Linked DNA regions of Homo sapiens: all the other regions are reported to be linked to region 1. Evidence: microRNA targets listed by miRTarBase, many of them from high-throughput screens and not tested one by one. Region 1 holds a microRNA gene; each other region holds the end of a gene's coding sequence.

Region 1 (7,965 bases):
GACCCAGTGGGATATAACTGAATCATGGGGGCAAGTCTTTCCCATGCTGTTCTCATGATAGTGAATAAGCCTCACAAGATCTGATGGGTATATAAAGAGGAGTTCCCCTGCATAAGTTCTCTTTCTTTGCCTGCTGCCATCCATGTAAGACATGACTTGCTCCTCCTTGCCTTCTGCCATGATCATGAGGCCTCCCCAGCCATGTGGAACTGTAAGTCCATTAAGCCTCTTTCTTTTGCAAATTGCTCAGTCTCAGGTATGTTTTATCTGCAGTGTGAGAACAGACTAATACAGTAAATTGGTACCAATAGAGTGGGGATCTGTTGAAAAGATACCCAAAAATATAGAAGCAACTTTGGAAAAATATGGAAGCAACTTTGACAGAGGTCGGCACAGTATGGAGAAGAAGACAGGAAAATATAGGAAAGTCTGAAACTCCCTAGAGACTTGTTGAATGGCTTTTTCCAAAATGCTGATGATATGGACAGGAAATCCAGGCTGAGGTGGTCTCAGATGGAGATAAGGAACTTGTTGGGAATTGGAGCAAAGGTGACTCTTGCTATGTTTTAGCAAAGAGACTGGTGGCATCTTGCCCCTGCCCTAGAGATTTGTGGAACTTTAAACTTGAGAGAGATGATTTAGGGCACCTGGTGGAAGAAATTTCTAAGCAGCAAAGCTTTCAAGAGGTGACTTGGGTAGCATTAAAGGCATTTAGTTTTATAAGGGAAGCACAGCATAAAAGTTTGGAAAATTTGCAGCCTAACAATGCGATAGAAAAGATAATTCCATTTTGTGAGAAGAAATTCAAGCCAGCTGCAGAAATTTGCATAAGTAACAAGGAGCCGAATGTTAATCCCCAAGGCAATGGGAAAAATGTCTCCAGGGCATGTTAGAGACCTTTGCAGCAGCCCCTCCCATCACAGGCCTGGAGGTTTATGAGGAAAAAATGGTTTCATGGTCTGGGCCCAGGGTCCTTCTGCTGTGTGCATTCTAGGGACTTGGTGCCTGTGTCCCAGCTGCTCCAGCCATGACTAAAAGGGGCCAATGTACAGCTCGGGCCATGGCTTCAGAGGGTGCAAGCCCCAAGCCTTGGCAACTTCCATGTGGTATTGAGTCTGCAAGTGCACAGAAGTCAAGAACAGAGGTTTGGGAACTTCTGCCTAGATTTCAGGAAATGTATGGAAATGTCTGGGTTCCCAGGCAGTAGTTTGCTGCAGAGGTGGGGCCCTCATGGAGAACCTCTGCTAGGGCAGTATAGAAGGGAAATGTGGGGTCAGAGTCCCCACACAGAGTCCCTACTGGGGCACTGCCTAGTGGAGCTGTGAGAAGAGGGCCACCATCCTCCAGACCCCAGAATGGTAGCTGCACTGACAGTTTGCATCGTGTGCTTGGAAAAGCTGCAGACACCCAATGCCAGCCATGAAGGCAGCCAGGAGGGAGGCTGTACCCTGCAAAGCCCCAGGGGTGGAGCTGCCCAAGACCATGGGAACCCACCACTTGCATCAGCATGCCCTGGATGTGAGATGTGGAGTCAAAGGAGATCATTTTGAAACTTTAAGCTTTAACTGCCCCGCTGGATTTCAGACTTGTATGGGGCCTGTAGCCCCTTTGTTGTGGCCAATTTCTCCCATTTGGAATGGCTTTATTTACCCAATGCCTTTACCCTATTGTGTCTAGGAAGTAACTAACTTGCTTTTGATTTTACAGGCTCATAAGTGGAAGAGACTTGCCTTGTCTTGGATAAGACTTTGGACTGTGGACTTTTCAGTTAATGTTGAACTGAGTTAAGACTCTGGGGGACTGCTGGAAAGACATGATTGGTTTTGAAATGTGAGGACATGAGATTTGGGAGGGGCCAGGTGCAGAATGATATGGTTTGGCTGTGTACCCACCCAAATCTCATCTTGAATTCCCACATGTTGTGGAAGGGACCCAGTGGAAGGTAACTGAATCATGGGGGCAAGTCTTTCCCGTGCTGTTCTCATGATAGTGAATAAGCCTCATGAGATATGATGGTTTTATAAAGAGGAGTTCCCTTGCACAAACTCTCTCTTTGCCTGCTGCCATCCATGTAAGACATGACTTGCTCCTCCTTGCCTTCTGCCATGATTGTGAAGCCTCCCAGTCATGTGGAACTGTAAGTCTCTTAAACCTCTTTCTTTTGTAAATTTCTCAGTCTCAGGTATGTCTTTATCAGCAGCGAGAAAACAGATTAATTCAGTTCTCCATCATGAGGAATCTGGTCATCAATCTTTTTGGCTGCTTCATGCTGAGGAGGGGCATTGTGGGCAGCTCCATACCATGGCTGAACACCTGGCTACCCAGGAATCCAAGGTTAATCTAACACTATAATTTTCTTCTGAACCACAATCTTTCTCCCCTGCAAGTTCCCCCTCCTCCCCCAAAGACAAATCACTGCAGGGCCATTTTTTCTTGATATTACACAAACATTTTATCCAAAAGTAAAAAAAAAAAAAAAAAAATTTACCCCAATATAGTCTCAGGTATTTTGCTATAGCAGAACAGACAGACTCAGGCACTTTGCCTGCTCACCTCTTATCTTCAGGTGAGAGGCGTCAGGCATCTCCACCCCACAGTCCTGCTGACAGCACCCTAACATACTCACAGGCAGGAAGCAGGAACGTAGGGGTGGGTTCCAGGGAAGAGAGGTGTCATGATGAGAAACACTTGTGGGGCCTGAGCTGACCTAGGCGGCCGAGGGAGGGAAAGAGCATCAGGCAGGAGAACCAAAGTGGACATGAGGAAGAGAGGAAGGTGGGCGAGCCCCTGGATGAGAAGGGGCCACCACGATGCCAGGCTCACCTCTGCCATTGAATAGCTGCTCGGTGACTCCTCACAGTCTGCAAAGCAACCTCCTTATAATCTATAGCTCACCAAGTCAGACTACCAATTTAGGACGTAAACAAGGCTGAGGAATTTTATCTTTCTTCCCGCAATCTAGGCACTCAGTCTTCCCTGCAAACTTGTGCGTCTCATGACAGCCACACTTAAGGACAGCAGCGGGCAGCTGGAGGATCATTCCCTCTGGCTGCTGCCCCAGCTGTATTTACCTCTGGGCATAGTGACTATCTAAGATCTGGAACAACCTCTAAGAACAGGGTACAACCTTGACGTCTGAGAGAACATTACAGCTGGGGAAAGCTTGCTCCAGCAACTTCCCCCTCTCACTGTGTTCTCTTTGACCTCTTTATCACTTTTCCTGAAAAGGGAGGGAGCTGAGGAAAAGCATACAAGTCGCTTGGGTTATTGAGGCCAGAGGAAAAGAGTTCCAGATTTAAACGATATCAGTCCAGCTATAAACCACGCGATCCGCTGAGTATCAACTGACATGCAGACACAAAAGTGAATCCTCGCTTAAACTAATGTGAGGGGAATGAAAATTATTCTGCTTTTACAGGAGCACTGCCTGGCTGAGCAGGCGGTCTGGGCCAGCCACACAGAGATTGGTAGAAGGACTCCTGTCCCTGTCGACTCACAGCCAATGGACTTGGCTCCTTTCTTAGGGCCCTCCAGGATACAGGCTCCCCATTGTGCCTTGAGAATGAAGTCCATTTGCGCTGAAGAGGGAAGAGGGAATTTTACATTTGCTTACATTAGAAGGCACTGTAGCCAATGAGAGCCAAATAACCCAAGAGTTTTGGCACTAGGAGGGACTTTAGGCCATTTAATTCACACTCATCATTTTAGACAGATGAAACTGAGAAAGAAAGACGGAAGAGATTTGTACAAATTCACGGGTAAATCCTCAGCAAAGTTGAGTCTAGAATCTGGCAGACACTCAGACCCTCCTCCTCCCTTTCCCTGCTGCCTCCATGGAAAACTTGGTAGTTTTCCTGGCTTGTTGTGGTTTTCTGAAAGCCCTTGGATTATCAGAGCTCACATTCACCTAGGCTTATTTCCTCAACTCACCAGCTGGGGCTGAATGAGGCTCAAAGACCAGTGGGAAGAGAGTGCTTGCTGAAGGGTGCATGGTAGACTGAGAGAGAGGAACTATGAATTAGATTCATGACTTTACACTACCTACTTGAGAACTTCATTTTCAAATGTGCAAGGAGAAACAGACGCTCTTACTACACCCAACTAATCATTCAGCATGTGTCAGGTCCAGTGAGGAGGTGAACAGATGCAAACAGAACTCTTGGGGCATGCTTGATTCTGCATCAGTAAGCCATGATCTCACCATAAAAAATATCAGTCACCTCCTGTGGTTGGACACAAGTAGAGACTGTAGGTCCCCACCCTGATTAGCTTGCTACCAAGTGGAGCTGTTGCAATAAATGCAAGTCTCAGCTCAGACCACATTTCATCAAATGCAGGGATCTTTGTTAGATACCAGATTATATTAATCTTTTAAAACCTTGCTAAGAGGAGAGGTCTCTCTCTCTCTCTCTCTCTATCTCTCTCCTTGCAACCTCCGGCTCCCCCCAAAAAAAACAGCAGAAATACCCAGGCAAGAGAGAGTTGCTGTCCTTTAAAAGGTCTCTTTCTGCCCCTCCTATGCACCCTCTTTCCATAGGTGATGAGTCACAGGGCTCAGGGAATGTGTCTGCACCTGTGACTCATCACCAGTGGAAAGCCCATCCCATATCCCACCTAAACCACTCTTTGGTGCCCAGGATCCCAAGGGCCCTGAACTCACTTCAGGCCTCTTCAGGGGGTCTGAGTCCTGAGGATCATCTGTCTCATGGCTGTCCTCATCCCTAGGCCACCAGGCAGCCATTTATAAAGAATGGGCTATGCAGACTGGGGTGTCTTTAATATGGGATGAGGGATGGAGCTGGGAGCAGACAGAGAACGGAGACACTGGGACAAGCAGATGGAACTCTGAGTTGAAGAATTCTATATCCAAACTTGATATTCTAGGTCCCTCTGAATATATATTTTTCAAGGCAAGAGGATAGAGTATGTTCTATATTATGGTTTCTTAGCTGGATTTATAGCTTTTAGATGTTTAAACATATGCTATGTGGGTCTCCATTTGCACTCTTGCCCCAGCCTGCAAATGTTGGAGACAAGTTTTTGAAGCAAACGCAAAGACTGGTTTCCTATGGTTAGATGGTGGGGGGCAAGGGGAGAGTGGTCTTATCCTTGGAGATGTCACACCAGTGGGCTCTAGACTCCCAGCCCTACACAGATGGCATAATTATTGGGCTTGATCATTTTTATCCCTTATTCACACAAGACAATTAGTCCCATTAGATTACTCCTAACCAAACAAAAAAAAATCTGCTGGTTTGCCAAATCAACAATTACTTTTAACACTTTTGTGTGCAAATAAAGGAAACTCAGTTGTTGACACAGACTAGAGTTCACTTTTTTGTGTTATCCATTAATTAATCAACCCTAAAGAGTAAAAGCAGATTAGGATTAATTGGTTTACACACATATTCCATTACTTATACTACAGTATTTAAAAATAATGACCACAAGGCCGGGTGCAGTGGCTCATGCCTATAATCCCAGCACTTTGGGAGGCTGAGGTGGGCAGATCACTTGAGATTGGGAGTTCGAGACCAGCCTGACCAACATGGAGAAACCTCGTCTCTACTAAAAATACAAAATTGGCGGGGCGTGGTGGCGCATGCCTGTAATCCCAGGTACTCAGGAGGCTGAGGCAGATGAATTGCTTGAACCCAGGAGGCAGCGGTTGCGATGAACTGAGATCGCACCATTGCACTCTAGCCTGGGCCAACAAAAGCGAAACTCCATCTCAAAAAAAAAAAAATAATAATAATAATAATAATAGTAATAATGACCACAAATACAGCATAGCAGCCAGCCTGCCAGAGTCCCCCTTTTGTTTCTAAACTGGATACACCTACGTGGGGTGGTGGCTGTGGGCAGCAGCTCTCAGGATGAGGAATCTACAAGACTCCAGAAGCCCAGAACAAAGGCTCCTCTCCCCTCCAGAAAGGGCATGCCAGCCCCTAGGATGATGTATATCACCGTTTCAGACAATCCTTCTTTAACCCAATAAACCACATCCCCTAGGCCTATGCCCCAGGTTTGGGGTTCTAAGAGACTTACTGCACAATGTTTACGTAAAATCATTCTTCTTTTCTGTGCTGGTGCTCCATATTAAGCAACTTCCCTTTATCTGCACTTATGTTACAGGACCTAAGAATTTTCTACTTACATCCACTTAGGGGCTTTCCATGGGCAAATCTGGCCATGACCCATCACATGCTGTTTTTCCAGCTCTTTGCTGTGTTTACTTTTCATGTAAACTTGGGTTATTCCAATAATTGTTTTTCGGTAATTTGGAGAGTTACAGGAATGCAACATTGAGCCCAAGAGGCAAGATCAAAACTAAAATTTGTGACATTAAATATCCAAGAGTTCTATCCAAAATCTTCTAGAAAGTTAATGAGAACCCCAGGCAAATCAACTGGAAGAAAAATATTTACCATTTAGCACTAGACAGTTGCAGGTACAAATCTTAGTCTACAGAAATGTCGACAAGCTAATCAGTGGGTTCCATTCCCATTCACCCAGGACACACAATACCACATTCAAGAATTCCCTAATGAATATACAGTTCTTACTTTCTCTGTGACCCACCTCCCCCACACCAAGTCCCCAGATACTGGAGACAGGGAGCTTCAAGTGGAGCACCACATATTCTCCTAAATCTCTTGTATAAGTCAGAGTCCTTCCTTTACACACAAGGGCTTTAAAAACTCAAAAGCCAGGAAAATGGGCTTCTATATCTCTGTCCCCTGTTGACTATCCCTTCACTAAGACAATGAGGACAGAGTAACCTTGCTCAAAAAAGCAAGAAGTACTTTGGGAGGCCGAGGCGGGGGGATCACCTGAGGTCAGGGATTCGAGACCAGCCTGGAGAACATGGCAAAACCCTGTCTCTACTAAAAATACAAACATTAGCTGGGTGTGGTGGCACATGCCTGTAACCCCAAATACTTGGGAGGCTGAGGCAAGAGAATCACTTGAACCTGGGAGATGGAGGTTGCAGTGAGTGGAGACCATGCCACTGCACTCCAGCCTGGGCAACAGAGTGAGACTCTGCCTCAAAATAAATAAATAAATAAATAATAAAAACAAGAAGAGAAGTAGGTGAGAGGGTTAAGAAAGAAATACAGGAGGAAAAAAACTATATAATACTTCAAAATTAATATCCAACCATAATACTAACAGTTTTGAATATATTTCCATATAGCCTGTTGATAAAAAAAATCTTTCTTTAAAATATAGATATGATTACAAGCCTCCAACAGTTTCATGTTCCCCACAAAGGAAGTATTAGAAAGATCCTCCTACATTTGGAAAATGAAGTGCTGGCACCACTGAGATATTTGTCTGGGAGACCTACTATTTGCATGGGCAGAGAAAACATTCACATGGAATATTCAACCACAAAAGCATCAGATCCTGGGAACAAAACTAACAATTTCCCAAACACTTCCAAAACATAGCTCTGACCTCTACTCCATCAAAAATTCTGATTTAATTTGAGGAGATTCTGCTCTATTTCTTAAATCAAATGTCCCTATCTCTCTTGCACCGTGAATGCTCTGAATCGACCAGTAAGACAAGAACAACATTAAAACCAACAGTGAGGGCAGTTTCAGCATCATCTTGCTCTCCTCCAAGACTTCCCCTGGTTACCTTGCTCCTTTCTCCCTGCCAGACCTTGAGTTCTCTTTTCCAAAACATGGCTTGAGCACCTCCTTGAAGAAGTCTTCCTCATGTCTCTTATCTTGTTCTAATCATCCCATGGCTAGCGTAAGTAGCACAGATCCCATCTGCATTCCAGCTATATGTGTTCCTGTTGTTTCTTCCTGTCTTCTCATTAGCCTATAAGCTCTATTGTACAAGGTCTACACACTCACATCCACTGTAGTACCCATAACCATGTTGCACAATATTCTGCATACAGAGGGAACTTAATAATTTTTGCAGTTTGACTTTTGGGTCTCTATTCTG
Region 2 (7,965 bases), not on the chromosome of region 1:
TATCCAGCTGTGTTTGAACTCAGCCAGCTGTTGATGGAACTGAGGTGGTTGTAAGGGTTGGGGAAAAGAAGAGGAAGCTCATCTCTGCAGAGTGGGTAGGGGAAGCTTTAGTTCTCAGTTTAAAACAGTGGTTCTCAAAGTGTGGTCTCCCAACCTGCAGCATCAGAGTCTCATGGGAACTTGTTAGAAATGATTTCTTGGGCCCTACTCCAGACCCACTGGATCCGGCCATCAGGTGAAGTTCAAAGAACTTGGTTCAGATGTAGTGTTCACTAAATTACAGACAGCAGTCAAGATTTTAGGAAGAGCTGGTTGAAAATAATTGCCTTGACTGGCTCTAGTGACCCCCCAAGGAACACATGCCACTTACATGTATGTTCTCTTCATTCATCATTTATGGGTATATTTGTATTACTCCACAGGGCTGACGATTTGGTATTAGACTTGCTAATGAGCAGCAGCCATGTGCTCCTGCTATCTGACAGTCGGTACAGTCACAAGTATATTGTATGCAGCAGAGAAGAGCTTAACAGCCAGCCTCCTTCCACATTCTGCTCTCAGGAAATAAGCAAGGGGAGGATCCAGAAGTGTCATTTGACACTGACGACAGAGTACTTATTTCCTATGCAAAAGAGCCCAGGCAGAAAGACAAACCTAAATAAGAATCTAACTTCTGTAAGAAGCTGTGAAGAGTGATGCTGGCAGCTGCCTTTGCAGACTCTAACTCCAGCAGCATGAATGTGTCCTTTGCTCACCTCCACTTTGCCGGAGGGTACCTGCCCTCTGATTCCCAGGACTGGAGAACCATCATCCCGGCTCTCTTGGTGGCTGTCTGCCTGGTGGGCTTCGTGGGAAACCTGTGTGTGATTGGCATCCTCCTTCACAATGCTTGGAAAGGAAAGCCATCCATGATCCACTCCCTGATTCTGAATCTCAGCCTGGCTGATCTCTCCCTCCTGCTGTTTTCTGCACCTATCCGAGCTACGGCGTACTCCAAAAGTGTTTGGGATCTAGGCTGGTTTGTCTGCAAGTCCTCTGACTGGTTTATCCACACATGCATGGCAGCCAAGAGCCTGACAATCGTTGTGGTGGCCAAAGTATGCTTCATGTATGCAAGTGACCCAGCCAAGCAAGTGAGTATCCACAACTACACCATCTGGTCAGTGCTGGTGGCCATCTGGACTGTGGCTAGCCTGTTACCCCTGCCGGAATGGTTCTTTAGCACCATCAGGCATCATGAAGGTGTGGAAATGTGCCTCGTGGATGTACCAGCTGTGGCTGAAGAGTTTATGTCGATGTTTGGTAAGCTCTACCCACTCCTGGCATTTGGCCTTCCATTATTTTTTGCCAGCTTTTATTTCTGGAGAGCTTATGACCAATGTAAAAAACGAGGAACTAAGACTCAAAATCTTAGAAACCAGATACGCTCAAAGCAAGTCACAGTGATGCTGCTGAGCATTGCCATCATCTCTGCTCTCTTGTGGCTCCCCGAATGGGTAGCTTGGCTGTGGGTATGGCATCTGAAGGCTGCAGGCCCGGCCCCACCACAAGGTTTCATAGCCCTGTCTCAAGTCTTGATGTTTTCCATCTCTTCAGCAAATCCTCTCATTTTTCTTGTGATGTCGGAAGAGTTCAGGGAAGGCTTGAAAGGTGTATGGAAATGGATGATAACCAAAAAACCTCCAACTGTCTCAGAGTCTCAGGAAACACCAGCTGGCAACTCAGAGGGTCTTCCTGACAAGGTTCCATCTCCAGAATCCCCAGCATCCATACCAGAAAAAGAGAAACCCAGCTCTCCCTCCTCTGGCAAAGGGAAAACTGAGAAGGCAGAGATTCCCATCCTTCCTGACGTAGAGCAGTTTTGGCATGAGAGGGACACAGTCCCTTCTGTACAGGACAATGACCCTATCCCCTGGGAACATGAAGATCAAGAGACAGGGGAAGGTGTTAAATAGATTTAAGTTTCAAAGCAAAACAAACTGTGATTATTGTATTTACTTGTACTGCTGCTTATCAATATTGCTGACTTTACAAACTGATATAATTATTACCATTAGGAATTATAAAAATATTTCACAATCTACACTTTCCAAATGTGCAATGTGGTAAGTAGAGAACCATGTTAGAAGTAATAATTGTTTCAGAATTAGAACTTGGCTTCCCAAACAATTTAAGTGTTGTGTAAAGATGTTGCTGTCAAAGTGATTAGACAGCCTGGCTATTCTGTCATTTGTTCACAGTGGTTTTACTGGGTACCCCCTAGGACCAGCCCTGTAGTGGACCGGCTGGAGCCTGCAGTAGAGGTTCTGTCAAAGCTGAGCCCCTTTACCTTCAGTTTCACCCAGGACCTGCTAGTCCTAATTTTACCTACTAAATTGTATTTCACATAACCAAAGCTCAAAATCTACTTTCACTTGAGATTTTTAACACATTAATGATAAATTTTAATGCGTTCTTCATTTACTTAATAAGTGTTAATTTACTTGATGAAAAGTCCGTATCATAATGTTCATGACTGAAGGTCAAAGAAAAAGAAACAGCACCTTATTCCAATTCTGGACTCATTTCAAGCCATGGCTGGTTCTGGCCAAGTTTAAATAAATTCAAACTTAAACTAAAGCCTGCTTCAGTGAACTTTTTAAAGCTACCTGAATGAGTCTTCAGTTTCTAAGTCTAAGAATTGTAGCAGCTTTCCAATGACATTCAGTAGTCTGATATGGGGGAAAAAATACTTAAAAAAATGTCCTCTCTTCACTTCCAAAATGTGGGAAAGTTATTTTTCTATAAGCAGAAATGTGTTCCTCCTAATATCTCCTTTCTCCCAAGATAAACCATGGTTAATGATATAGGTATAGATTACTCCTCAAATACAAATAGAAGATGGAGATGGTGATCTTTCTTGTTAATGGTACTAAACTTACCCTTACTCAGAACATTGAACTTGAACCCTACTCAACTTTTAAAATACTATAGGCTAAGTTATAAAAATAATCTAGCAACCTGAGAAAGAGATTAATATCAAAAAGAGAAAATTCAACAAACCAAGACAGAATTTGGTTAAGAATACAAAATAAAAAGCATAAGGGCAATGCAGAAAGCAGTAAAACTGTGTACCCAGACATACGGTAAAATCTGAGTAACAGGCAATAACCATTCATTTTATAGCAAGGTAAAACATACCCAATAAAACATGATTATGATATATTTCTGCCCCTTTTAAGTATAATGACATTCACCCATGATTCTTGATTACTTTGTTATGGAACTCGGGTATTTTCACTGAAAGTTTCCCTCAGAATAGAAATGCCTTTAGGGCAAACCAAGCCATGGAGAATCTGAAATATAAAGGATATGTTATGGAAAAAAAAAGATTTTGCTTTTTGTCTATGGGTTTCCGGATTCTTTGCTTTTTCATAAGTGGTCATAGTTTGCTTTTTAACACAGGAGGTAGGGCTGTATTCTTTTTACATCCTTCATTACAAATTTTATTTGAAGCTCATGTATTCAAATAAAGTAAAATTTAACCCAAGAATCCAAAATATTGTCTTGTGATATGGTAGTTATAAAAAGGATTATCATTGTCTGTGATTATTTGAATAAATAATTTTTATGTTCATTATATGTAGTAAATTTAGGATGTAAGCTTCCAGGGTTTGACACTTTAAACTTGTAAAGAAATAAAAATAATTACGCTTTACTTCCGATAGTTTTTGGAGATTTAAAGCTGTCTTTGTCTTGAATTATCATTCCAAAATCATTATTAGGAACAATGGAGCTTTATGGGGCTGTTTGACCTTAACACTGGAACAGGTCTCAAGGTGAACTGATTTTCAGAGTTTGCTAACAAGCACCAAATCAAGATGCAGACACTGGAACAAAGAGTAATTACAATGAACCTTTCATTAAGAACCTGATACACAAAGTTAAGTCCCGACTTGATCCCTTAAAAAATCTGCTTAGAGAAGTTTGATTTGTATCTTATCTGATCAAACCCAGATACTTTAAGACAAAAGTAGGAAATTAGAACAGATATCACCAAACTGTTTTCTTCTCACTTCTCTACTGTGAGAAACAACGTAGTAAGTGGGCAAACAATATTATGTGGAATTCAGAATAACAAAATAAGGCATTCTGGAAACTTTACCCTTGTGAGACAGTCGTATTTCTACATACTACATAATAGTTGTGCTCCTTTTGGCAAGCACTTCAATTTCATTCCTCACAGTACTTAAAAATCACTCAATGAACTTATAAAATGAACTTCAAAGAAAGAAAAAAAAGGAAACAGAAGGCGGCCAGGTGTGGCGGTTGACGCCTGTAATCCTAGCACTTTGGGTGGCCGAGGTGGGAGAATGGCTTGAGGCTAGGAGTTTGAGGCCAGCCTGGGCAACAGAGTGAAACCATTTCCAAAAAAATTTTAAAAAGAAAAAAAAAAAAGCCAGACATGGTAATGCATGCCTGCAGTCTCAGCTACTCAGAAGGATCACTGAAACCAGGAGTTCAAAGTTACAGTGAGCTATGATGGCACCACTGCACCCCAGCCTAGGAGACAGAGTAAGATCCTTTGTACGCATAAAAAGAAAAAACATATCCTGTTTATCAACTTTACAGCTGAAGACCTTAGTCTGATCAATGCCAGGTTCCTACATAAAGAGTTCACAAAATTTCCATGGCACTTAATAGATTTAAGCTATGAACTATATAACATGGATGTGAATGTGTGTGTCTGTGACTGTATGCACACAACATACAAATACAGATCTGTTGGTATTCCTTCTTTCTAGGATTTGTTACAATCATAGTCGGTATGAGATAATGGAAAATAAATTATTCTATTAACATATATATTTTGTTAAACATTTTATTTATGTGGCACTCTGAAACGAGCAACCTATGAAGGCATAAAATAAAAAGATTTTTTTTTAACTCGGGAGGTAAAGCTAGATATATCAATTAGGAACTGATTCATGGTGTGATGTACACGACATGTTGAAAGAATGCCAAAAAGGCGCAAACCATCATACATTAATACAAAGGACAAAAACAAAAAAAACCCCAGCATCTTCTTGCTATGAGGCAATAAGGCACTGCTAAGAGACTTGAGCACCAAAATGATTCTCTACAAATTCCTTCCTTTTTATACTGCAAATACTGCATTATTATATTCAAACCTTTAAAAACTAGGTAATACTTAAGATTTAGAGTCAACTTACTTTGTGGGAAATTCTATTTGCTGCTTTTAAAAACAGGTTAAAATAAGCTCTTAAAAATTAAGTAACAATAATCATATACAATACAGATATATAAAAAGGGTTGGTTTATTGTAGTTCAAATACATAAACTGAACATTCAAACATCTTAAAATTAAACTTTAGCAACAAAGTTTAACATTCAAACAGGAGTATAGTTTACAAGAAACACCCAGAAAGGTAATTTGTTGTCTAATCCAGAATATTGATAAAGATCACTTAATGGTGAATAAAATATGTTTAACCAGTGGTTCTATTCTGGCCAACATGTTAGTTATGACCGTGGTTCCATACCTGAGAAGAAATTACTACATAAATCTTCTCTTAGGCTAAACAACAAGACTCGGTCTATAATTCAGAGGGGATAATCAAAGCACGTAAGTGAACAAATAAAACTAATCTGATCTTTAGAGACAAAGGTAAAAGTATTGTCCATTATAATAATTGTAGCCTCTGGAAGATAAGAATTCAATTTTCAGTGTTTTCTCTTTTACCCGCTTTAAAAAAAAAAAATCAAAACAAAACAAACCCCAACTCGGGTTTTCTTGGAGTCTGTGGTATTTGCATCTGGCAAGTTCAAGCCACAAATGCTCTTACTTCTTGCATGTATTAACACTGCTAGGAAGAACGTCACCAAGTCACTGACTTCCACACCTCATAAAAGGATGAATTTTAGCTTCAAGATTTTAAGATTTACTAGAGACAGCCTATATTTGAGTATGTATGTCAGTCATGCCACACAAAGAAAAGCATAAATATTTCCAAAGTGTTCTGTTCAGAAACTGTTCACAAATGCTTCTCCTTCTGTTTGTCAGATGGTTTCGCAATAGGTTGACTAATGCACATATATGTAAAAACCTGAAAATTGGCTCATGCAAGCATTTTGAATAGATGCCCCTATGGAAGAGTATTTAGAATTATTTTGTTGATCGTCTCGTGGGCTCCGATGCTGTGGGAGGTGGGGGTGGACCCCGGCGATCCAGGTCATCAACATATGCCACAATCAGTTTACGCCTCTCCTCTGGCACACAGTCCAGTACTAGATACCGTTTGTCATTCTGTAAAATTTTTTCTACATCTTTCAGGTGCTGATCTGATTCTTGGATTAATTTTTTGGATCTGAAATAAGAAAAAGAAGTCCAAGAATTACTGACTGCTGTTCACAGGTCTTTCAGAAATGAGCTGGAAATGTCCATCTAGTTCCTAATTGTGTTTCCATTTTTTTTTTTTTTTTTTTTTTTAAGAAAAATTTCACGGCAGTGGTCACCTTTGTAAGTCGCCTCAGCAAAGACTCCAAGGAGTGAAAGGGCCTCAGAAGCTGAATTACCCTCCCACCCCTAGTGGTGGTCCCTCCAGATCAGGGCTGAGGGTGGGTGGGTAAATCTTGCCCGTGCTGTACCTGTTCTGTGGATGAACAGAGGACTTCAGTCTGCGGGGCTGCCAATCCCAGCATCTTTCACAAGCTTTCACTTTCACATCTTTCACTAAATTAACTATAAAAATGTAGAAAGAAGTCTTACTTCACATCTAATTTAAAAGCCCAAGCTGATGCAAAACATTAAGGATCCTGACCAAAAAATCCAAATGACAAAATATCTAAAAACCACACCCTCAGCACTATCTAGCCTCCCGTGCACATACCCTTTATTAAGATGTTTCAAATTTCTCTCTTAAAGAAGAAAAGCTGGAGCATGAAACAAAAATGGTTTCCTGCATACTGACTGGTAAGCAATGCGAAATTGTTTTCCTGATGATAAATTGTTAGGGGTGAAGAACTGTTGGGTTTGCTACAGAGAAATCTTGTTTAAAGGCTCTGATTTCATAATTTACAATTTTTATTTAAATGTACCCAGCAAAATGCTTTCCTCTGAGGGAAAAAAAAATGTTTATGCTGAGCTTAAATAGATGATTTCATGCTTTAGAATGATCTAACCACACTGAATAGTCTTCAGAGGAGGCAAAGATAACTGATAGTGAAAGATTATTTTAAAAGTCTCTTCATGAAATACAATTCTTATATAGTTGAGGGTATTCCTAAAAAAAGCGGTGAAGTAAAAAAAAAAAAAAGGTATGTATTCAAAACTGGATGGGTGGGTAACACAAAATAAGAATTGACATCTGGGCCCTTTCTTTAAAAAAAAAAAAAAGTATGGTAGATATGGGCTGTATTTGACTTTGGACAGAAGTTGGTATCTTCTTATCCCTAAAAATTAATAATGTCAACATGTGTGTGAATGCAAAGAATGCTCTGACCATTAGAGTAAAGACTAGTAAAGAGAATGACTGCCAATATGAAACATTTCATTGCACACACCTATATGTTATAAATTTGGTCTCTTTCAAAAGCGTCCTGAAGTCAGCTTTGGCTGTGATATATTTGTCTCTGATATATTCTTCAAATTCTCTTTGTTTTTTCTGTTAATAAAAAAAAAAAAGTTGAGATTATGGAAATAAAACCCACTAATTCCAAAATAAACATCAATTATTTATTAAACAGTAATGTGTAAGTCACATAATAAAATTTAAAATTCAAAAGAAAAAGGCAACAGGGTACATTTTGTTCATATATAAAATTCATTAAATCACAATTTGCAAGGCTCATTTTTGCGGCAAATAGAAAGAATGAGGAATCATAAATTAGTAGTGGCTAAAACTTGAGAACTTGCTATGTGCTACACTGCTGAGCATTTTATGAGGATCATCTACTTCAATCTTC
Region 3 (7,965 bases), not on the chromosome of region 1:
GAGAGAAAGACTAATTTAAGGCCATTCATGGGAATACATAAAATGCTTATACATATAACATATAATCTGAAAGACAACCCAAGTAGCAGCTGAGTTAATTAAAATTATTTTATCTTGGATTCTTGTATTATATCACCTTATTTCAGCTTTTTACCAATGTTGAAGGAGATCATGACATCCCTAACACTGGAGTGTGTATTTTCTGATCCATCCATGGGATATAAAATGATGATTGATTAAAGGTGGTTGGATTAGTGGAAAAATTACTAGATTGAGACTGCAGAAAATGAAATTGTACTTCCATCTTTGCTGTTTGCCAACTATATGAAATTGGCAAGTCAGGCCCACTGGGTTACTTTCTTTATCTCTAAAATGAAGGAACCGAACTAGGTCAGGGGTTGGCACCCTATAAGTTCACAGGCCAAATCCGACCTTGCCACATGATTTTGTAAATAAAGTTTTATTGGATCACAGCCACATTTTTTTCTTTACATATTGCCTATGACTGCTTTCTTGCTCCTACAGCAGAATTGAGTATTGTGGTTGCCACAGAGCCCATATGGCCCACAAAGCATAAAATATTGACTCCTTTGACCTCTGCAAATAAAAAGTTTACCAACCCCTGATGACTGGCAATCAGATAATTTCCTGGTCCCCCTTCATTTATAATGTCATTGGTGCGCTATGATTAGTGTCACTATTTTATGCAGAAACTTGGCTTTTTCAATAAGGAAAGCAACTCAGGTAGTCAAAAGAAGAGGGCAGTGCCTATCTGCTGAACAGTTGCTTAAGATGGGTTCACAGAAAGATTCATGAGTAAAAAAAAAAAAAAAATACAGATACAAATTCTGGCTCTAATATCTGCTATACTTTTTACTGGGGCCAAGATGATTGTATTAGAATAGTCTGCCTTCTCTTCTTTAGCATAGGAAATTCCATGGCTGGATAAGGTGACAAGCAGAGCAAGTTTTTTTCTCTTGCCTATACTCTGGTCTGCATACAGATTAATCTGTGGAATCTGAGACAATTGGTAAATCTCTCATGAATACCCTTGGATTGTCCAGAACCCCACCTCTCACCTGAGTGAAGAGGTCAGTCCAACACTTGTTGAACCCAAACACTCTATCTTCGGTATCCAATCACCAAAATAGTTTTGGAATATTGATGAAACGTACATGCCCTTCCTTCAAGAAGATTGTATCTAATGGAATGGAGAGGGAAGGGGGGACTCAGGACCTAAACACATGAGTCCCCCAGTCATAGTCATGAATGTGCATATCCATTGCAGCGCTCCAGTACAGTACACACACATGCACCCATGTACCAAGCACCCCAAACAATAAGAAGGTAAGCAAATGAGAGCAAATTGTGAGGTTGCATGATGCTAAGTTGTGTAAGTCCATTTTATAATAAGCAAAGGGAAAAGCACCTTTATAATAAGCAAAAGCAAAAGGAAAAGTTAACATGGGGTACATCATATATGTTAGATTAATAGCATGTGGAGAGGAGTACAGTAAGTTTGCTTGTTTAAAATCAGGCACAAGAGCTGGGGTGCAGCAGAAAGAAAAGGAACTTGGGGGAAAGACAGGAGCATTCAAAACATGGGAGCAAAATTAAAGAAGTGGAGGGAAGGGAAAGTAGGGAATACAGAAAAAAGGGTAGAAAGCCATGGAGTGGGTCAGTGAACTGAAAATACACACTTATGCCCATAACCCATTTTTATTTTGAATATAGGTATAAAAAGCAGTTAACTCTTATGTTTTAAGCCCTCACTTTCCCCTTTTCATTTCTATTTGAAGTTTGGTTGTCATTTGCTCTGGCATATGTGGAATTAAGTGGATGGATTACTTAATTCAAAGAAGTTACTGAAAAGTTCTGGGCGTTTATTTGGTTTGTAATAGTTCCATGGTGCTAATCTGTGTTCTTCCTTCCAAGGTGGATCGTATGTCTTTCCCATGCGGCTGCACTAAAGAAGGATGTAGTAACACAGCAGGTAGAATTGAATTTAATCCTATCCGTGTTCGGACTCACTTTTTGCACACAATAATGAAACTTGAACTGGAGAAAAACCGAGAGCAGCAAATCCCCACGCTGAATGGCTGCCACAGTGAGATAAGTGCTCACAGTAGTTCTATGGGCCCTGTCGCTCACTCCGTAGAATATTCAATCGCAGACAGTTTTGAGATTGAAACTGAGCCCCAGGCTGCAGTGCTGCACCTGCAGTCGGCTGAAGAATTAGATTGCCAAGGAGAGGAGGAGGAAGAAGAGGAGGATGGGAGCAGCTTTTGCAGCGGAGTCACAGATTCTAGCACGCAAAGCTTGGCACCTAGTGAGTCAGACGAGGAGGAGGAGGAAGAAGAAGAGGAAGAGGAGGAGGAGGATGACGATGATGACAAAGGAGATGGCTTCGTGGAAGGTTTGGGCACCCATGCCGAAGTTGTCCCTCTTCCTTCAGTTCTTTGTTATTCTGATGGCACCGCCGTTCACGAAAGCCATGCAAAGAATGCTTCTTTTTATGCCAACTCTTCAACTCTGTATTACCAAATAGATAGCCACATTCCAGGAACTCCAAATCAGATCTCTGAGAACTATTCTGAAAGAGACACTGTCAAAAATGGTACCCTTTCGCTGGTGCCTTACACCATGACCCCGGAGCAATTCGTTGACTATGCCCGACAAGCAGAAGAGGCCTATGGTGCCTCCCACTACCCAGCTGCCAACCCCTCTGTAATCGTTTGCTGCTCCTCTTCCGAAAATGATAGCGGTGTGCCCTGCAATAGTTTATATCCTGAACACAGGTCCAATCACCCTCAAGTGGAATTTCACTCATACTTGAAAGGCCCCTCCCAAGAAGGGTTTGTCTCTGCATTGAATGGTGACAGTCACATTTCAGAGCATCCTGCTGAAAATTCTTTGAGCCTTGCAGAAAAGAGCATATTGCATGAAGAGTGCATCAAATCACCCGTGGTTGAGACAGTCCCTGTTTAGTAGCTTAAATTATTCTAGGACCAACTCTTCTCTTATTTAAGGCACTGTATTTAATTGGATTTCCTGGGCTCATCATTGTTTAAACTGAAGACCAAGAAAACTTGGACGGTGGTTAATCTTCCAGACTGTATTTTGTTTTTTCCTTTCTAGCCACATGACTGTGGCATTGCACAAATACAGTCTCTGTAGGGATTTTAAAAGATTTCAGACTGTTTTGATAGAAAAAGCTAAATTTTAAAATGCATATCTCACAGTTGCCTACCTGTCAAACTGTGTGAAACCTGCCAATCTGTGTAGATCAGAGCTCCAAATTTTGGATTATCGGGCCTGTGCAAGATTGTTAACTAAGGCTGGGAAATAATAAGATTTAGAGTCCTAATTTTCAATATATCTGAAGATAATGATGACTTTTTAATGTAAAAGTAATTATTGTAAGAAAAAGATTTAATTGTTCCATGTGTATTTTATTTATGGTAGTTTAGAAGACATGTTTTGATGAAAATGAACAGCCGCATGTTCATTCAAGCTGAAGATGCATAGCTAGTTCCACAGAGCATGCCCACATGGATTGCATCTGGAATCCATTCACATTTTTATGATCATGACTGATCAGATTTGCAAATTCTTAAGGGTGAAATAGGCCTATTTTTGCTATTTTGGACAAATAAATGATTCTATATGTGCAGGTCCTTACACAGTTTTCTCTAAAGTTAAGAGTTAGGACAATCCTCTGGGGAGAGTCTAGTTCACTGCCCTCCCTCAGCTGACTCCAGAGATGGAGGTAGAAGGAATTGCCTTTCTTTTTTAAACAGCATCATCTTGATTCTTAGCTTGGACAGCACCTTTAAGCTCTACCCCCTACATCAAAATGCACTTTAGTGCCCCTTCACGGTACCTCGTGTGGGGTGGGGACTGAGAACTCTTTGAGATGAAAAAATTTAAAAAAAAATTAAAAAGATCTTTAACTATTATAAGGTTCATATAATTAATATAGAGGAATCATCCAATGATACTTATGAAGGGAAAATGACCTATTTTCCTTCACCACTCTGAGGACCTAACTCAGTAAATGCAGAGGAGGCTGAGGAAACATGGAAGAGACACGACCTCAGCAACCAGCCTTTTCTCCAGCGTGATCAATCCATCTCTACAAAATCAGTGTATAATGAGATTTCCACTTAGTGACTAGCTGATTGAAGGGGGGCCTCTACCCAAATACTCAACTAGGCCTTTCTTTTCTGAAGCATTTTGATTTGTCTTGCCTGGGACAACTAGCAGAACAGTCCAGAATGCATTGCATACTTTCTAATTACCTCACATTCTCTTATTAAAGAGAACAGATAGAAATAAAACATGCACTCCCCACCTTTAGATTACCTGCACTTGGTTCGTCGGAGGACTTCTAGGATCCCGTTTCCCTGTAAATTAATTTAGGTAACTAAATAGTGTAATTCTGCCTTTTTTTTTCCAATGCAATATGACTATGCTAAACCTGTTTCATATTTTTGACCTTCTATTGTTATATCACTTCACATGTTTTATAACTATTTGAAATGCGGACATGACTTGCTATTCAGTGACTGCATCGCTACTTATTTTTTATGTCTTTTAGACTTGGGTGTTTAGAATTATGGATATAAATATATTGTAGATCTCAATTTCTAAAAAAAATATTTTATTTAATTGAACTTAAAAATGCTTGATCTAGAGAAAGTCCTCCAGTGGAAAAGTTTCTACTAAACTTTGTTTTGGGGAAAAAATGTTTACTTGGCAGCTCTTCCACTGTGCAGTTGGTTTCTGCCCCTTCTCTTCCCCCCTACATTGGGCCAAATTTATAACTCTTAATATTAACATTAAAAGAGCTTTGGGTTTGTCTTTATGTAGGTTGCAGTAATGAGAGCAGGGTTGTTCCTTTTGAATGATTGGCCCTTTGGGCTAATCAGAATGAGGATTTGTTGAAATCTCAAATATACATATATATATATATATATATATATATATATATATACACACACACACACACATACACATATATATACACATATATGTATGTGTGTGTGTGTGTGTGTGTGTGTGTATATATATATATCCCATGTTGTCTGCAAAGTGACAGTTTTTAGTGCTTAATCTCCAAAATTTTCCCCCTACTGATACAATCTAAAGAGCACAGGCCCAAAGAGAAAATGACAAGAGGCTATTGTTCCTTCATTCAAGCACATGAAAGGATCATGTGTACTGTATTTGCTGGACCATTACAAGCTCTTGAAGGATCTGCTTGTGAAGTACTCTGAGGTTATTCTTGGAACACAGAGTGTGGGAGAGTGGGGAAGAGCCAGCTCCAGCCTGAGCAAAGCTGAAGGGTAGAATGACAGTCCAGTTTCTGAAAAGAGATATTTTAATTTTAGTTCAGCTTTATTTTCCTAAGACGATATGAAGCCTACTTTTTTATTTTTGGCTAGGTCTTTGTTTTCTAGCTTTGTTTCCAAAAGGATGCTTAAGAAAACAGAGTTTTTTTCCCCTATCCATTTATCTAGGGTAGAAAGTCACTGCCCTGTGAGAAGAATTACCCTTCCAATCATGACAGCTTCTATTCCAACTTTTCATATACCTGACTAACCTGTAAACATATCCCACAAACCACATACACAGGCTACCTATTAAAACTCTCCCATATACCTAACACATACACATGCACACACATACAAAATATATACATATCACACACTTAGAGAATGACAGATTTCAGGCAATGGCCAATAGTCAGTATTGAGTTTTTCTAACCCCAGAATCTGGTTGGGCTTTATGATCTAAAAAAATGTGGTTTAGAAAAGAGGATAATTGGTAGAGCTGTAGTTTGAAAATATCAGGTCAAAGTTGCAAACATACTTATGATGGAATCATTTCATTTTTAGTTCCTTTCCCAGAAAAGCTGAGAGAGCACACTGTTCCAGCTGACTTTTTTTTCCATTAATAGCCGTTCTATTCAACAAAGAGCTGCCCACATGCCAGGAAAGTGCTACAGTCCTTCTAAGCTTTTAAAAATGGGGATCAAGCTACATGCAGCCAGTTGGAATACTTAAGATCTTTATGCCAAGACACAATAACCTGACCTGCAGCTGTTGTATTGCCTCCATAGTATATCTAGCCAAACTGTAGTCTTTGACACACAACTTTTTAGTCATTCACTATCAATTGCAAAGCTTCATGCTCCAGCCCTGGCTATTCTAGTACCAGTCCTATACCTTTAAATGGGACTTAATTCCCAGTTATAATCCTGGCCGAATTGATTTGAAAGTCAAGTGGCTGAAGCAGCTTGCATCTCCTTTGTCATTCCCAATTTCCTTTGGGAGAAGTCAATGAAAGAGATTTACTTAAGTTTTTCCTCCTTATCTCTTGATCATTAATTATTAAGACATGGGTAAAATTCATTTGTCTCATGTCTTTTGGTTGATTGAATAATATAGTTACTTTTTGAAAGCCCATCATTTCTTTGTGATAAAACCATTTTCTCAATGTGACAGCCACATGTAAAATGTGAAACTAATGTTTCTTAGTATGTTTAAAATCTTCACAATCATATATGGCCCTGCAATACTCCCTGAATTCCTTCCCTCCAAAAAAAAACTATGAGTTGCAAAAACACTAGTTACGAATTAATCAAGAAGCAAAGAGAGTATGTTAAGTGGCTATGTTCTTTAAAATTTTACATTCTAATAGATGACTTCTAGGCAAAATTTTGGTATGATTACCATTAAACAGGAAAACATACCATGATTTACTTTCTATAACTTGCTAATCACTGTTTCTTTTATTTCAATTTTTGATATTGTTGCACAAGTTTATGACTCTTTGGTCTTTATATTCAAAATTTATTAAGTATCAATTCTTTCTTTCAACAAATATGTACTGAACACATGCTGTGTTAGAACAACTGTCTTGGGTAGTAAAAAGAGGGGAACACTACAAATTATAATGGATAATATTAATGAAGGGTGGCATGAAATAATCAAGCTTTCTCAAATCCTCTTAATATGTGATTTTATCAAGTGACATTAGAAAAACTGACATCAGTTCTTGTCTAATTATATGTGAGCTGCAACTAAAAGATGCTTCCTTTACCTAAATTATAGAACTCACTGGATCGCCCTTCATCTCTCTCCCTCCATCTGAAATGTATGAATTAAATCAGGACTCAGCTAGGACTGAATCAAATGAAAAAGAAATTTTCGATTAATTGCTTCTTCAATGTTAGACCTATATAAGTGATGCTAAATTTACACCAGCAAACTCCTATCAGACAGTTTCAAGGAGGATTTGACTCATGCATAACCCAGGAAACATTTCAGGAAACTTTTAAGACAACAGTGTGGAACACAATCACTCTTACTTCTATTTATAAAAAGCCTATCAAAACAGCAAAATCCTGTTGCAAATTCCAAAGACATCACTTTGCAGCAGGTGGAAAACAGAGAGGTTGTTAGACTCCATCACTTTCAGCTGGAGTTACAAACCATCAAATTAGCAGGTGGAAAATTTATATTCTCAGAAGCCAACAGGAGACTGCCTTTTTAAAAGGTGTCATGAAGCCTTCTATTTCTCCAAACAACTCAATATTTCTCTTTAAAATGGCATCTCTGTTCCTTATTCTCTTGATGACAGTTTGCAGTGCCATTATAGCCAGTGTATTAAATACCAGGCTTTAATGGGAAGCACCTTTGTGCTTTCAAAGGCAAGACTTGTCTGTAATTTTAAATTAGAACTGTTGGTTGTATTCTTACCACAACCAAAACCCAAAGTTTAAAGGCTTGATTACTCTATATTAGGTCTAATATGAATTTTCACCTTCTGATTGCATTACTTTTTCTGAAATCTGCTAACTAGTGCTGGAATAACAAAAATGCCTAAGCCAAAATGCTGTAGCTCTGCACCAACAGCACAGCTCATCAGATGTTTTCTATAGTAGTAAAGAATTTGATT
Region 4 (7,451 bases), not on the chromosome of region 1:
TGAGACCAGCCGGGACAGCATAGTGAAACCCCATCTCTATAAAAATACAAAAAAATTAGCCAGGCATGGTGGCGGACGCCTGTAATCCCAGTTACTCGGGAGGCTGAGGAGGAAGAATCACTTAAACCCAGGAGGCAGAGGTTGCAGTGAGCTGAGATCTTGCCATTGCCCTCCAGCCTGAGCAACAGAGCAAGACTCCATCTCAAAAAAAAAAAAATTTGGTGATGTTTGTATGACCATAAATATGCCGAAGGAACTGTTTATATCAACTAGCTTATGTTAAAATTGGTGTCATTACGTCATTTTGTTTATACTCGTGGTTTCCTAGAACTTATCAGTGACGTTGAGGACTAATTATACTGTGACCATTTTTCTGGATCATGAAATATTTCAATAGTGGTCTCTAATGATGGGTGCTTAAGGGCACCATCCCTGGGGATGTCTTCTTGTATATTTTTAGGTGGGTCAGGTTAACAATGGGTGTGGAAGGGCACCATCTCTGGAGGTGTCTTATTCCATAAATTTGGGTGTAAATTTTTTTAAAGATTTCCAGGTGATTTTGATGTGTACTCCCAGTTAAGAAAAAATGTATCAGTATTTCCATATAGATGCTCAGTTTCTGGGCTATTCTGTTCCACTGGTCAATTTTTCCACATCCAGGGCCGGGCGCGGTGGCTCACGCCTATAATCCCAGCACTTTGGGAGGCCGAGGCGGGTGGATTACCTGAGGTCGGGAGTTTGAGACCAGCCTGACAGACATGGAGAAACCTTGTCTCTACTAAAAATACAAAATTAGCTGGGCATGGTGGCACATACCTATAATCCCAGCTACTAGGGAGGCTGAGGCAGGAGAATTGCTTGAACCTGGGAGGCGGAGGTTGCGGTGAGCTGAGATTGTGCCATTGCACTCCAGCCTGGGCAACAAAAGCGAAACTCTGTTTCAAAAAAAAAAAAAAAATTTCCATGTCTGTCATCCTCACACATCTTAATTACTGAAATTTTGTAAGTCTCAATGCCTGCTAAGGAAAGCTTCCCACTTTCTCAAGGAGGGTCTTCCTTATTCATGGGCCTTTGCTCTTCCATATAAATCTTATAATGAGCTTGTCAGTTTTCACATAGAAACAGTTGAAATTTTGATTTTTAATCTATAGATCAACTTGGGGACAACTGACAAACTTTTAGTGGTATGGAGTCTTCGAATTCTTGTACCTAATTATTTCTCCATTTTAATGTTGTCATTGTTTTTCACTTATATTTTACAAATTCCTCCATACAGATCTTATGACTATTTCCCCACTGATTTTTCATGCCATCTCTACCGTATGCTATGTTATACATAGGATTGGGCCTATCCTTGCACTCCCTATTCTGTTTCGTTGATCTACTTGTCTTTGCCTACACCAAAACTGCCTTTAATTCCATAGCTTTAAAGTAATTGCTCAATAAGCCTTGTTATCTGAGAGTTTCTCCCTGCCCCCAACTTTTGGACTGTAAGATGCTGACCTCTGGTTTAAATGATCTTGACACGTATTAGAATATAGGCCCCATAATGAAGCTTCTCAAGAGAGCATTACAAAGAAACTTTGTCAACCTGTAGCTGCAGAGTTTTAAATTTCATTTAGATTTGGCACACCTCTTTATTCAAAAGTATTTATTTCCACAAATTTTTATCCACAGCTAAATATTACAGTGACTATTACAAGCATTTTTCTATAAACAAAGGTGTAGTTTACAGATTTGTGCAAAGTGGGAAAATATTTTCATCAGTAGTCTTTCTTCCATGGTGTTGGATTCACCCCTGAATATGATCTGAACTCTTTCAGAGAGGCAGTCCTTCATCTAAATGTCAGTTGGTGGCAAAATGTTATATTCAAATCTGGATTATTCTGATACAGTGTCACTTTAGAAAGTAGCTTAGTTTCATTTCTGATTGATCCCCTTTGTTAGAATTAGAAATTTTTTGAAAAACAATCTTTTGTATCTAATGACCTTTATAATAAAAAAAACCCTGTCCTGTGTTTCTCATTGGCATTAACCTCTGTCTACACCCTCTAATTCTCTAATTATGGCACCAGTGGGTATAAAAAGTGAATTATGGTTATTTGGCTCATGCAGCAAATTAATTGGAGAAACTGACCACAAATATTCTGTGAAGAACTACAAGGTCTTGCCCCATGCTGTCCCATTTTAGTGACCATTTAGTTATGCAGGCATTATACAAATGCCTCAATTTAGGACACCCTTGCTGTCTTAGTAGGTCAAGTGTATGAAAATTTACTTTATGCAGAAGAAATGAATTCTAATTTATTGGTTACTGGAATCTTAATGTATGAAAGCTCTAAGTAAATATTTGATGAATTGATGGTAGCAGTGTTGATTTTTAACTGTTCCAAGCTCCTAGTTTTGTTTTGTTTTTACAAAAGCCTTAAAATTTAGTACTAGGGAAATCAAAGGAAGCAACTCCCACTGACATGCTTCATGGAAAGGGGAAAAACATCTACCTTTGGGTCTAATCTGCCTCCCAGGTGAGCCTACAGGTACTGGAACTCTAACTGCAACTATGAGGGCACAGGGAAAATGCATGTATGTAATATGCTTGTCAGCTTCAGCAACAACTCATGTGTACATTCACATTTACTATAAGTAAACAGGTCCCGTATAATACTTAAAACACAAGTTTTGATCTATAAATATTTGATTCTTAATATTTAAAATGCTTCTAATGTTTTAAAAGACAAAACTCCCCCATGATATCACCTTGAACATTAAAATTATTCCCACAGCAACACTTATTTCAGAGAAACAACTGATGTCAGTTATCTTAGTAACCGCTAAAGGCACCTGGTGAAAAAAATGTCAACTAAATTTTAAATATTAAAAAATTAAAGAGACATCTAATGCAGAGTTCAAACCTGAATTGTTAAAGAGTCATTACTGATTTCATGACACTGATAAATGTTTGAATTGAAATGATTTTTTAAAATGCAGAGAAAATGCTAACAAAAGATTATATAGTTCCCCTAAAGATGCTTCTTCTAGCCTCCAAGTATTAAATAAGACAGATCTAAATATTAACTACATATAAAGTATATATTTGTTAGTCATCTGTAAGTTTTAAGTACAATTCCAGGATATACCTTTATCTTTTGGAAGAGAAGAACTAAATCTGCCATTTCTTAGGCTAAATGGACTATTCATAAGGTCCTTCCCTCCCCATTTATTCTAATTGCCAAGCTTTTATTCAGTAAGCTCTTGGCACCTAGTGATTAACCAGTGACAGCAGAGAGTAGTGACCAAGAGAGATGGAGAGAATGATGGTATAAGACAGTGTATAAGGATAGTAAGCCACTGTGTTTGTGGAACCACTGCATGTCAAAACTCCTTAACACTCTAACAAGGCATTTTTGGTCTTTTAAGGATGGTCCTTACATAAGAGACTCACTTTCAAACTAAAGTGCATTAAAAAACAAATTATCCTTCACAAACAACTTTAAAGAGGTAGCCACAAACCCAGTTGTTTTAGATTGGCCTTCTAAATGAAGTCAGCACATGGATCCATGGGTAAGTGTCATGGACGTCAGTGATTATGTAACTGTAACTGAAAGAAAAAGGCACAGCTCTGCCGATGCCCAAGAGAAGCCGGCATGTTTAATGTGGATGTAGAGGGGATAATGCCCATGACAACTGATTGGAACACAATGTCAGCAGCCTTAACCCAGGCTAAGACTGGCCTAAGCCCCAGGAGATGCAGAGAACAACTGAGGAAGCTGTGCTCTAAGGGCACAGTGCAGAAGGTAGCGTGGAGTGTGCTGTGTTTCCAAGAGCCTTTTAAGTTGGGTGGTTGAGTAAAAGAGGGTGAAGGCAGGCTGTTCTACTTCCAATTCATGGATAAATCTTATTTTCTCAATGTAATACAGAGGCTGTTCTTCCATGATTTGCAAATACCATTTTTTTCTTATGGGAACAGCATACTGCTATCAAGAAATACAGAAAAGACAGTAAAAAAAAGTGTGGAAAGAATATGGGTTTCCAATTGAATGCTTGCTTTTGAAGAAACCAAAAACAAGTTAAAAAAAATTCTAAGAGCAGCAAACATCTAAGCCTGTTATATTACTGAATTACTTTTTTAAAATCCTTATTTTGTGGGAGAGATATTTACAATTTTTTGTGTGCTAAATTTGAAAAACGTTGAAAATAACCTGAAAAGGGAAAGTTGACCTAAGCCATTTTATTCTCTTAAAAAAAAAAAACCCAAACTTTTGTATAATATCCCTGAACTGATTATTTTTGAAGGTTTTTCAGATGATCTGATGTGCGAACTTTAGTTTGTTTTACTATTTGGTTTCTGGAACAGTAGAGCATTATGTGATGCTCTTACTGGAAGCTTAATGGTATTAAGAGATTAAAAGCTTTCATATTGACTTGTTTGGTTTTTACATCTATAAATAAAACAAGTTTGTTATCCGTTTCTAATATTTAGCTTATATACATTTTTGTGAAAGTTTTGTGGGACTTGGAAAGTGTATGGACTAGCATCAGAAACAAAATATTTTTCCATCTTTCTCACTTGGAGTTTGGGATAGCAGCATTTTAATAATCTCTTCCATTAAATCAAGATAACACAAAAGCGTTTGAGCACACTGAGGACTGGCACTTCTAATTTTGCTTCAGAAACCAGTACTCAAAATGTCTGGTCTGGAGGTCAGTTACACCACTGTCTGTGTATAATCAGCCATTAAAAAATATTTTGGGAATATTTCTCAGAAGTCTCATCCCCATATTTTTGTTCTTAAAACATCTCACCACAAACTCAACCACACCTATGGTTTGCAAACTTTGGGAAATGTCAGTATATGCCATTATCATGGTTATTAGTACCATTATTTGTTAAAGCCCTTTGAAGGCAATTTATGTGACTTATATATATTTGGTATTTTAATTTGGACATTCTCTAGTTCTATGCAAAGATCAAAACTAGGCAGCTTCGTTTTATAGAATTGACACCTTTTATATGTCTATGGGGACTGCTTGGTGTCTATAAATTATGTATATGTGTTGGACTGAAATCAAACTTAAAATCTTCCATATTTCAAGTGTTTTTATTCTGAGCAGTAGGTACAAAAAATAATGACATAGTTGTGTCTAATTCTGTATAGTTCAGCACCCTCCACAGGCTGTCAATCTCTGATTTGATCTACTTTTACCAGATTTAACAGATCCTTGAATTTACTTTACTGTATATACTTCCTTCTTGCTCACATTGGGAATCAAACTAATGCTGGAAACATGCATCTTCAGACTTCATTGAGGAATTCCAGATTGAGACACGCTGGGATGTGGATTGAGTCCATGGTTAGAGAAGATGGATTAAATGGAAACAAAACAGGAAACATGTGCTTGGCATCTAATAGCAGTTGCTGAGGGTCATTCCGCTCTTGTAGTTGTGCCTATGGGGAAGAATAAGACCATGTAAAGTTTGAGTACCCCTAAAAATAGCCAGTTTAAGTGAATTCACAAAAGTGAGTTGGCATATATCATGGAAAGATTTCTACGACAATTAGGTAGAACTTCAGGACTAGGAGAATGTGATCTCCTCACCCTTGAGGTATTTAGTGGGGAGAGAAGCCCTGACTTAGGCTTCTTGGAGATCAGAGGGCTGTAAGCACTCTCCCAATTCTAGCATTCTTTAAAAAATTGTCTAAGGGAGAATATAAAATACATCTCAGGTGCAAACCATATGGAGAGGCACTATAGTGAAGTGGCCAAGGGCATGGGTTTTTTTTTTTAGGTAGACAGCTGAGCTCTAATCCTGGCACCACCCTGGGCAAATTCCTGAATTTTTTATGCCTCAGTTTCTTTACCTGTAGAATGGGAGAAGAGTACATCACATAAAATGGCAGAGTAGGAAGCCCTAGGGATTGGTCCCTCCACTGAAGCTACCTTGAAGTAGAAACAGTGATTGTCAACTATCTCATAACTCTGGAACTTGATTGGACATTTATAACAATCGGGAGACTGATTGGTAAAGGGAGAGGCTGCTGATCTTTGCTAAGGGAACTGTGTGTGTGACCCAGCTACTATCCCCCTCTCTTCAGCTCCCCTGAAGCTATGGGGATAGCAGCTCACATTCCTGGAGTAGCTAGCTGGCCAGGGTAGGCAGTGGGACCTTGTCCTCCAAAAATTTGGGGTTGTGCCCTTTGATCTGGTGGGTCCCAGCAGATGCCTGTCTTGGTTTAGACATTCCTTGGGATGCAATGGCTTCCACTAGTGGCATCAACTGGAAAATTTAAAGGCACAGAGCCCCTCCCTGCTTCCTATTTGAAGCCAGAAATTTTAGGAAAAGTACAAAAACTGAAATGAAAAATTCACTAGAGAAGTTTAACCGCAGACTTGAGCAGGCAGAAGAAAATCAGTGAATTTGAAGATAAAGCAATTGAAATGATCCAGTCTGAGAAGAAAATAAAAATAATGAGGTAAAAATGAACAGAGCCTAACAGACCTATTGGACACCATCAAGTATACCAACATACACATTACAGGAGTACCAGAAGGAAAAGAGCAAGAAGGGGGCAACAAAATATTTGAAGAAATAATGCCAGAAACTTCCCAAATCTGATGAAAGACATGTATGTAATCATCCAAAAAGTTCAATGAACTCCAAGCAGGATAAAGGCAAAGAGATTCACAGTGAAACACATTATACTAAATTGTCAAAACCCTAAGACAAAGAGGGAGTCTTGAAGGCAGTGAGAAAGAAGTGACTTGTCACATACAGTCATCCCTCAGTATCCATGGGGGATTGGTTCCAGGAATTCCCACAGATACCCAGATCCATGGATATGCAAGTACTGCTGTCGGCCCTGTAGAACCTATAGATAGAAAAAGTTGTCCCTCCATAACTACAGGTTCTGCATCCTGTGAATACTGAATTTTGAATCTGTGGTTGGCTGAATCTGCAGATATGGAACCTGTGGATATGGAGGGCTGACTGTATAAGGTATCCTCAAATAAGATTAACAGCTGTTTTTCATCAGAAACCATGGAGGCTAGGAGGCAGTGGGATGACACAGCTCAAATCCTGAAAGGAAAAAATCTTGTCTGCTAAGAATTCTAAATCTGGCAAAACTACCCTTCAAGAATGAAGGAGAAATTAAGTCATTTCCAGAGACAAAGAAGGACATTATATTTTAATAAAAGGTTCAACTCATCAAGAAGATATAATAAACATCTGCATCTAGCAACAGAACCCCAAAATATTTGAAGGGAGAATTGACAGACTTTAAGGGAGGATAGTTCTACAGTAATGGTTGGACATTTCAATACCCCATTTTTAATCATGGATAGAACCAGATAGAAGATCAATAAGAAAATAGAGGCCATGAACAACACTATAAACCAATTAGTCCTAACAAACACATATGGAACACCCCACTTAGCAGCATACACATTCT

The links. The annotated mature microRNA hsa-miR-587 reads UUUCCAUAGGUGAUGAGUCAC and lies in region 1 at 4,529-4,549, shown strand. An mRNA with a match to its seed (bases 2 to 7 or 8) in the 3' UTR can be bound and repressed. Matches are read on the target gene's strand: a 7mer-m8 pairs with bases 2 to 8, a 7mer-A1 pairs with bases 2 to 7 and ends in A, and an 8mer does both.
Region 2: miRTarBase lists GPR151 as a target of hsa-miR-587. Seed matches in the 3' UTR shown: 7mer-m8 at 3,259-3,265 and 8mer at 3,356-3,363.
Region 3: miRTarBase lists CSRNP3 as a target of hsa-miR-587. The part of its 3' UTR that is shown has no 7-base or 8-base seed match.
Region 4: miRTarBase lists MYO5B as a target of hsa-miR-587. Seed matches in the 3' UTR shown: 7mer-m8 at 5,081-5,087 and 7mer-A1 at 4,552-4,558.

Annotation. Positions count from the first base shown.
Region 1 is chr6:106,779,612-106,787,576 of GRCh38, forward strand. It overlaps MIR587 (microRNA 587), which reads left to right and starts at 4,514; the gene lies at 4,514-4,609. It overlaps LINC02532 (long intergenic non-protein coding RNA 2532), which reads right to left and starts at 7,930. Exons shown (of 7, transcript NR_033557.2): 1 at 7,648-7,930.
Region 2 is chr5:146,508,844-146,516,808 of GRCh38, reverse strand. GPR151 (G protein-coupled receptor 151) reads left to right here and starts at 619. Exons shown (of 1, transcript NM_194251.3): 1 at 619-3,665. The coding sequence starts at 696. The coding sequence ends at 1,955. TCERG1 (transcription elongation regulator 1) reads right to left here. Exons shown (of 23, transcript NM_001382548.1): 22 at 7,564-7,664; 23 at 4,848-6,368. The coding sequence ends at 6,167. RefSeq lists a silencer at 5,977-6,177.
Region 3 is chr2:165,676,766-165,684,730 of GRCh38, forward strand. It overlaps CSRNP3 (cysteine and serine rich nuclear protein 3), which reads left to right. Exons shown (of 7, transcript NM_001172173.2): 7 at 1,936-7,965. The coding sequence ends at 2,988. Among named protein-coding and RNA genes, the nearest start is that of GALNT3, 110 kb to the right of the region's middle.
Region 4 is chr18:49,821,177-49,828,627 of GRCh38, forward strand. MYO5B (myosin VB) reads right to left here. Exons shown (of 40, transcript NM_001080467.3): 40 at 1,613-5,447. The coding sequence ends at 5,295. The region is part of intron 1 of SNHG22 (small nucleolar RNA host gene 22); the gene reads left to right. Among named protein-coding and RNA genes, the nearest start is that of SNHG22, 11 kb to the left of the region's middle.